Regions from separate parts of the Homo sapiens genome. Here regions 2 and 3 are each linked to region 1. The links come from fine-mapping of genetic effects on gene expression. A gene starts in region 1. Each other region holds a variant in brackets. All regions are shown on one strand. Distances are between the middles of the regions.

What was found. PIP is the estimated chance that this variant, and not a neighbour inherited with it, causes the effect.
Region 2: its variant is fine-mapped to the expression of SYNPO2 in fibroblasts (GTEx, PIP above 0.99). The same link has a PIP of 0.9 or more in monocytes, monocytes after LPS, monocytes after Pam3CSK4 and monocytes after R848.
Region 3: its variant is fine-mapped to the expression of SYNPO2 in subcutaneous fat (GTEx, PIP 0.97).

The regions. Positions count from the first base shown.
Region 1 is chr4:118,887,231-118,889,998 of GRCh38, reverse strand. It overlaps SYNPO2 (synaptopodin 2), which reads right to left and starts at 1,145. Exons shown (of 5, transcript NM_133477.3): 1 at 858-1,145. The coding sequence starts at 962.
Region 2 is chr4:119,024,494-119,027,261 of GRCh38, reverse strand. SYNPO2 (synaptopodin 2) reads right to left here. Exons shown (of 5, transcript NM_133477.3): 3 at 1-635. Among named protein-coding and RNA genes, the nearest start is that of SYNPO2-AS1, 41 kb to the right of the region's middle. The variant T/C (reference allele first, on the strand shown) is at 1,229.
Region 3 is chr4:119,089,299-119,092,066 of GRCh38, reverse strand. No RefSeq gene overlaps it. Among named protein-coding and RNA genes, the nearest start is that of MYOZ2, 45 kb to the left of the region's middle. The variant C/T (reference allele first, on the strand shown) is at 1,438.

The sequences.
Region 1 (2,768 bases):
TACAATACTATAATTTGCAATTTGATGATAAGGTTAGGTAAAAGTTTGCTTAGTTTTGTGCATTTTAAGTTTTATTTTAGCTGAATGCCAATTAGAGAATACCAGATCCCCTTGGGCTAACCAGTAATGCAGGCAATCTAATGGCAATAAAAACTTAAAGCATTTTAAATAGTTATTAATGTGTTACAAAGTTACCTCTTAGTTACTCATAATATATTTAGATTATCTTCTAAGTTTATTTTTGAGATCTTGACCAAAAGAGTACATAAGAAGGAATACAGCATTTATTGGATTTTTGCATTTATTTGTCAAATCCTTAAAAGGGTATTCTTTTAAATAGATTTTATGACACTTCATCATACTTTTAAAATTATTGCCCAACATTGGCCTTTTCATGAATGCTGCATAATAAATGTCACTACCAACACTCTATATGAGTCCCCAAAATAGCCAAGCAAAGTCGTTATGCTGAACTGAGCGTTTCTCCTCTGCCAGAGCCAAGTGAAGTGACATCAAACAATAACTCAACTGAACATTCTAAAATTGCCTGGAAGAAACGCTCCCCAGTGTCTTGCTTGTTGTCAGAAGAACATGGTTAACTAGGCCTTTTCCTCAGCTGATAAATATGGCATTCTTCCCACCCACCCCTCATCGATTGCAAGTTAATTACATAGGATGTGGCCCATTACTCTCCAAAGTTTCTTAGAAAATAACTCACTTCCTAGAAAAATCTTAATATCCGCAGCAAAATCAAATAATACTTAGACTTCTGCATCAGAACCTGAAAACACCATCAGCAGGTTGCTTTCATTCCTTCCTTCCTAGCACAGAGCCGTGACACTTCGTTCAGGTCCTACCTTTGCAACTTGTAAGGGCTGCTTCTGCTCCTTGCCACCTTGCAATCTGAACCCCCAGGGCGCCCCTCCAGTCATGGAAATGCAGATAAAATCCCCTGTGCCCATGTTTTCCTTTTAGTTGGGCAGCATGAAGAGCTTGACGAGACAGACGAAGCTTGGGTGCGGTAGAGGATGCGCACTCAGCTTCGGGCGCCTGCCGAGGACGCAAGACTGGGTAATGCAGAGCGTCCGCCGCTGCTGCAGCCGCTGCCCCAGCCGCCGCCCCAGCCGCCTGCTGCGAATTTGTGCGGCTAATGGGCTCATTCTCAAGGAGGCAGAGGCGCTCGCAGCATCCAGGACACAGCCCACTCTTGCGTCACTCTCCTTTGCTCGGCCCACCTTCGAGGAAAGGAAAGCAGCTTCACACACAGGAGAATGTCCTCACGTGGGGCGAGATAAGGGAAAGGAGGACGGAAGGGAGAGCCAAAGTTATCTTGCACTAACAGATTAAATCCAAGCAGTTAATGGTATAAGTATGATTGAAAAACTTACATTTAATAATTCTGTAAATAGTAAAGGACACATGAAGGTTTAATCTCCACGCCATGAATGACGTCCTAAAATAGGAGCGTTGGGAATTCAACTACTAGAGGATTAGATTCTCTCAAATAAATGTTTTGAGACTTGCCACATTTATGAATGGAATAGACAAAAAAGAGTTAAAATGAGTTAAATTACTACTTTTCTGTCTGCATTCTGCTGAATTATTCCTATAAGAGGAAACAAAAGAAAGCACAAACTTTTTGTTAATAAACCTCCAGCTCTGAAAAGTACCTTTCTGAACCATATATTTAGAGAAAGGGGAAGAGAAGAGACAGAAAGGGAGAGAGAAAGAGAGAAAATGAATATGAATTTTTCTCCTGGAAACTACATTCTTATAATTACATCTATTGCATAGTTTTGGGTATGTTAAATTTTAACGTGTTTTGTTTTCTTTCTACCTGCTGATCTTCTTAAACCCAAACCCAACAGTTAGTCAACTGCATAAAATGTACAATGTCACCTACAGGTTTCTTATTTTTATAGTTTGTCATCCCATGTCATGAATCTGGGTGGTCCAATATAAAAGCAGATTTTGTATATTCCAAATATTTAAATGTTTTAAATCTGAATACAATCTGCCAAAAATGTACAAAAAGGACATTTTAATTTTCCTATAATACTTTTGTTTTCCATAACATTCATCCACATAAAAACATACTAAATAAGGAAGAGCCTGGGAAAGTTTGTTTGTGTTACTTGTGGTACCAAACAAAATTTCCAGACACGCTGCCTGTTTCAGCACTAAGAAGCACTATATACAGTAAGTCCTCACTTAAAACGTCACAGATAGGTTCATGGAAACTGTGACTTTAAAACCAATTTTACCATCGACTAATTGATAAAAACAAGGTTAAGTGACTACAGTCTATTTCTGGTCACAAAGACATCACCAAACTTTTAAATAAGATTAAAACACTTCTAATATTAAACATGGAAATAAATGTCAGCTACACATGCATTTAAGAAAGATTAATAAAAACAAGATAATCATGGACCCAATTTTTGGTGAATCAGTGAGTGAGGGCAGCTGTAGTGGTGGTGGATTCAATCAAGGAATAAATGTTTGCAAAAGGAAAATTATAAGGAGTACCTCCTGTCACAATGCAGTTCAAAACCACCACAAATATAGCAGGCTCACTGAGAAATTTCATACAGCATCATCTATTGCTGTGCATTTGTGTGATTAACATATATTTTATGAATTTTTTTTGAAAATAATTTGCATCCATACATTCATTCCTCCTCCAACCCACTTATTCCCATTCAGGATCTCCAGTGGCTTGAGCCTCTCCCTGCAGCTTAGGGCGCAAGGCAGGAATCAGCCCTGGA
Region 2 (2,768 bases), 140 kb before region 1:
CTTCTGTCTTCTGCCTGTCAGAGCAGTCGAGGATCACTTCCACCCGGGGCAGTCCCGCATCTCCTGCTTCACTTTCCTGGATCACTCTCAACTCTCTGCCACTGGAGATCTGGATTATCTTGCTGGACCTCAGGAAAGGGTCTGCTTTCTCATTAGTAGGGATCGAATTTATGTGGACAATCCTGTCATGTGACAAGTTAGGGTCTGGGTCAGGAGACTTAGATTTTTCAGCTCCCGGGAGAGCCACTAAAGGGCCACTAGCGCCCTTATGTCTCTCCTGTGAAAGGGACAGTTGCAGCTCAACCACAGGCCCAGGCTGTACCGCTTCTACCTTCTCCCTTAAGATCAGCTCTTCTGCCACGCGTCCTCTTTGGGAGTCAGGCATTTGGGGAGCCCTTTGGTAGCTCGGGCCTGTTTCTTCTTTCAAGCTGCCTGCACAGTCGGGACCACTTCTTTGGTTCTCAGCTAGGGGAACTTCAGTCTTGACAGGGGCGAGGAAGAATTCTGTGCACTGGGTCTTTGTGGCCGGTCGAATCTGCAGGGTGGTACTTTCCACATAACCCCCATGTGTGAGATGCTCGAGGTTTTTGTTTTCATTTTCAGATATCAAAGCCTCACTTATTCCACTGGATGGTCTGCACACAGAAAAATCATTCCAGACACTTAAATCAGACTATGTTACATCTGCCAAAGAACTTCCTGACACTTTTGTGATGTCTAATATGTGATATAGTCAAAATATTTTCTTCTAAATGTCAGTTGCAACATATTTGAAAACAGAAGGTGGCAACATGTTCATATTATTACTTAAAGAGATACCAAATAAACTTTTTTAAAAGCACAAAGAAACTCTTACACAAGATTATGAAACCTGAATCCATCCTAAATTCAGCTTTTATTTTTAAAAAACTACATGGATCCCGTTTATCTGTAAGTACTTGGAATCTGGGTATCTCTTATAATGAGTTTGCTAGAATGTGACAAAGCATTTCAATGTCTTATTGACTAAGTTTTGGTCTAGACATTATGAAGTCACATAAACATATCCAGCACCTTCAGATCAATCTTAACTTACAGATAACTCAACTAGTCCTTTTAGAGGCTGTGCTTTCTTGAAAGGAATGAAATAGAAGCTGTTTTTTAAGCCCCAGTGAGCATGTGTTTCGTAATAAGTGGACCCAGCCCAGTACTCTTGCGTAAAGAGAAATCCTTTCCGTGCTGCAATGAA[T/C]CATTAAGTCATGGAGTATTTATAATCTGAGATGTCTCCCTTTCTTCTATTTGGATCTGTTTCTTGGAGCATTTTCTTTTTAGGATATCTGAAGTCAAACTGTTCCTTTATCTCTCAGCTAAGGAGCCTAGAGCTGTACACCACAGCTCTTTGATTTTGATCTTCCCAGTTGTCTGTGCAAATTTGGGTTTCTGAGAAGAAGCAATGTCAGTTTAAGAGTTAAATAACTTCTTTCTGAAACTCTAATTTAAACTGTAAATGTTTTTAGAGGTATTATTCACAGAACAGCTGTAGGAAATGCCTTCATTTTTTATATTTGTATTTTTTTTAATTTTGGAAGCAGCATAATTATCTTTGCCCCTTTCCTCCTTCCTTAAAAGACAGTTATGACTCATGCAGGCACGTCAGCTGAAGGGCGTGAGCTTCTACTTGGATTCTACTCAAAGGAATTTACCTTAGAATTTATGTGGTAGTGCAATTTCCGACCAATGCTCAAAATACTTACTCCTACCTTTGCTTTCAACTGCATTTGGCAAAACAAAACTAAACAAAATGAAAACAAACTAACAGTTAAACAAAATGCACCTTTCTCTATACGCAAGTAATTGGAAAAGCTTCCCTGTAATACAGTATTTATACAACATTATAATATCGTATTAAAAAAGCATGATGTTAGCAAATTAGATCATTATTATGTAGAAAATGTTAAATACATTGTTAAACTGAATTTGAGGGTACCAAAAGGTCAGAGAGTTTTAATTTAGGAAGGCCTTGGGATGGAAGTAGATTAAATCACTTTGAATAACGTTAGCAATCAATTGTGAAGCTGAGAAGAGAATAGTTTCAATTCATGCCAGCCTTGTAGACCAATACAGACAAATGGCCAGATAAATATTAACATTTATCAGCAGCTGAAGTAAAATAAATAGACATGAGTAAATATCATAAAAGCATGAGCGAATAAAGCTTTATGCCTTAAAACATTCATTTCCCATCAGTCTACATAGGTATTCATCAAGTCCACAATTTATGTGTCACAATTATAGAATTTTTAAAATCTTATTTTAAGAACATTCAAGATAATAGAGATGGAATGTTAAAGGAGTTATTTTAAAATAGTCTTACTGAGCTATCTCTGGGCAATAGTTCAGGAAAAGTAAAAACACTTGTCCTCTACTGATAGATGACAGTGATATGAGTGACAGAAATATTTATTGCAGGAAACAATATTCAGATATTTAAAATAGTGGTAGTGGTGGTGATGATAATAATTGCTTTTGACTTGATTTTCAATTGAGATTCCACTTTGAATCCTACCAATTAGTTACTTACTTTGTAATTTTTTTTATTTTATAAATTTAATTATGTATTAGTAAATTATGTATTTTATAAACTTATTTTCTCTTCATAACATGAAGGAAGGATTCTAAGGCCTTAAACACTGAGTTTGATGGGTAAATATTTAGATTATAAGAATAATGCTAGATTTCCATTGTTGTCTCAAGATTTTGGCCATAGTGAGTTCATTTTCATCCCGGAA
Region 3 (2,768 bases), 200 kb before region 1:
AGAAAGATGAGATACTAGAGGGCTTCACAAGAGTTTGGACTTTAGCCTGTGAACCGTGGTTGCCGTTGATGACTTTAAAGCAAGGGAATAATATAATGTGCATTTTTATAATATTATTCCAGCCTCAATATGAAGAACTGACTGGAGATGCAGGCAGCGAGACCTTTTGACTCTATTGCAGTTGTCTCAGGGAAAGGTGATAAGGGCCTGATCAAATGCTGTGACAATGGCGGCAAGCAGGGCCAGGTATTCTGAGATGAGAGATACTAAGAAGATGAAGTTCACAGAGATTGGTGATTGATGCATTGAATAAGGGCCGGGGTTAGGGAGAAACTAGGGTAATGCTTCTAGTCCTGACATAGGCAGTTGGGTGGTTGCGTGGTGGTACCAGGCACTCAGTGGAGACCATAGGAGAAGGAGCAGGCTCTGCAGGAAAGGGTCTCATCTGAAAGTGTTAGATCTAAGGTGTCTGAGAATCCCTCAAGTGATAAGGACTAGTGAGTAAACAGATTCAGGGCTGGAGCTGAAAAGATATTTGAAATTGGGTTTGGACATTAATTATCTGTCACCACCCTGTAAGTGGAAGCAACTTAGGTAATTGTTCATTAGATTACCCAGGGAGGGCCATCAAAGCAGGGGTTGACAAAGCTAGCAGAAGACAAGAAATAACCCAAATCAGAGCTTAACTGAAGGAGATAGAGACATGAAAAGTCTTTCAAAAGATCAATGCATCTAGAAGCTGTTTATTTTTTAAAAATTAGTAAGATAGACCACTAGTTAGGCTAATAAGGAAAAAAAGAGAGAAGATTCAAATAAACACAATTAGAAATGACAAAGGGGATATTACCACTGACCCCACAGGAATACAAACAACCATCAGAGGATATTATGAACACCTCTATGCATATACACTAGAAAATCTAGAAAAAATGAATAAATCGTTGGACACATACACCCTCCCAAGACTGAACCAGGAAGAAATTGAATCCCTGAACAGACTAATAACAAGTTCTGAAATTGAGGCAGTAATAAATAGCCTACCAACTAAAAATAGCCCAGGAGCAGACAGATTCATAGCTGAATTCTACCAGATGCTCAAAGAAGAGCTGGTACCATGCCTACTGAAACTATTCCAAAAAATTGAGAAGGAGAGACCCCTCCCTAACTCATTGTATGAGGCCAGCATCATCCTGATACCAAAACCTGGCAGAGATACAACGATAAAAGAAAAATTCAGGCCAATATCCTTGATGAACATTGATGGAAAAATTTTACACAAAATACTGGCAAACCAAATCCAGCAGTACATTAAAAAGCTTATCTACCACAATCAAATAGGCTTTATCCCTGGGATGCAAGATTGGTTCAACATATGCGAATCAATAAATGTGATTCATCACATAAACAGAACTAATGACAAAAACTAGATGATTATCT[C/T]AATAGATGCAGAAAGGGCTTTTGACAGAATTCAACATCACTTCATGGTTTAAAAAAAAACTCAATAAACTAGGTATTGGAAGAACATACCTCAAAATAATAAGCCATATATGACAAACCCACAGTCAACATCATACTGAATGGGCAAAAGCTGGAAGTATTCCCCTTGAAAACCGGCACAAGTCAAAGATGCCCTCACTCACCACTCCTGTTCAACACAGTAATAGAAGTCCTGGCCAGGGCAATCAGGCAAAAGAAAGAAATAAAGTCCATCCAGATAAGAAGAGAGGAAGTCAAACTATCCCTGTTTGTAGATGATAGGATTCTATATGTAGAAAACCTCATAGTTTCAGCCCAAAACCTTAAATTGATAAACAACTTCAGCAAAGTCTCAGAATACAAAGTCAATGCTCAAAAATCACTAGCATTCCTATACACCAACAACAGTCAAGCCAAGAGACAAATCAGGAACATAATCCCATTCACTATAGCCACAAAAAGAATAAAATACCTAGGAATACAGCTAACTAGGAAGGTGAACAATCTCTAGAAGGAGAACTACAAAACACCACTCAAAGTACTCAGAGATGACACAAACAAATGGAAAAACATTCCATGCTCATGGATAGGAAGAATCAATAGTGTTAAAATGGACATATTGCACAAAACAATTTATAGATTCAATGCTCTTCCTGTTAAACTACCATTGAGATTCTTCACAGAACTAGAAAAAATTATTTTAAGATTCATATGGAACTAAAAAAGAGCCCACATAGCCAAGGCAATCCTAAACAAAAAGAACAAAGCTGGAGATATCACACTACCTGGTCAAACTATACTACAGGGCTACAGTAACCAAAACAGCACGGTACAGGTACAAAAACAGAGATACATAGACCAATGGAACAGAATAGAGAACACAACAATAAAGCCACACACCTACACCTATCTGATCTTTGACAAACCTGACAAAAACAAGCAATGGGGAAAAGATTCCCCATTCAATAAATGGTGCTGGGATAACTAGCTAGCCATATGTAGAAGATTGAAACTGGACCCCATCCTTATACCACATACAAAAATTAAATCAAGGTGGATTAAAGACTTAAACATAAAACCTAATACTATAAAAACCCTGGAAGACAACCTAGGCAATACTTTTCAGGACATAGGCACAGGCAAAGATTTCATGATGAAGATGCCAAAAGCAATTGCAACAAAAGCAAAAATTGACAAGTTTGATCTAATTAAATTAAAGAGCTTCTGAAAAGCAAAAGAAACTATCAACAGAGTAAAAAGACAATCTACAGAATGGGAGAAAATTTTTGCAA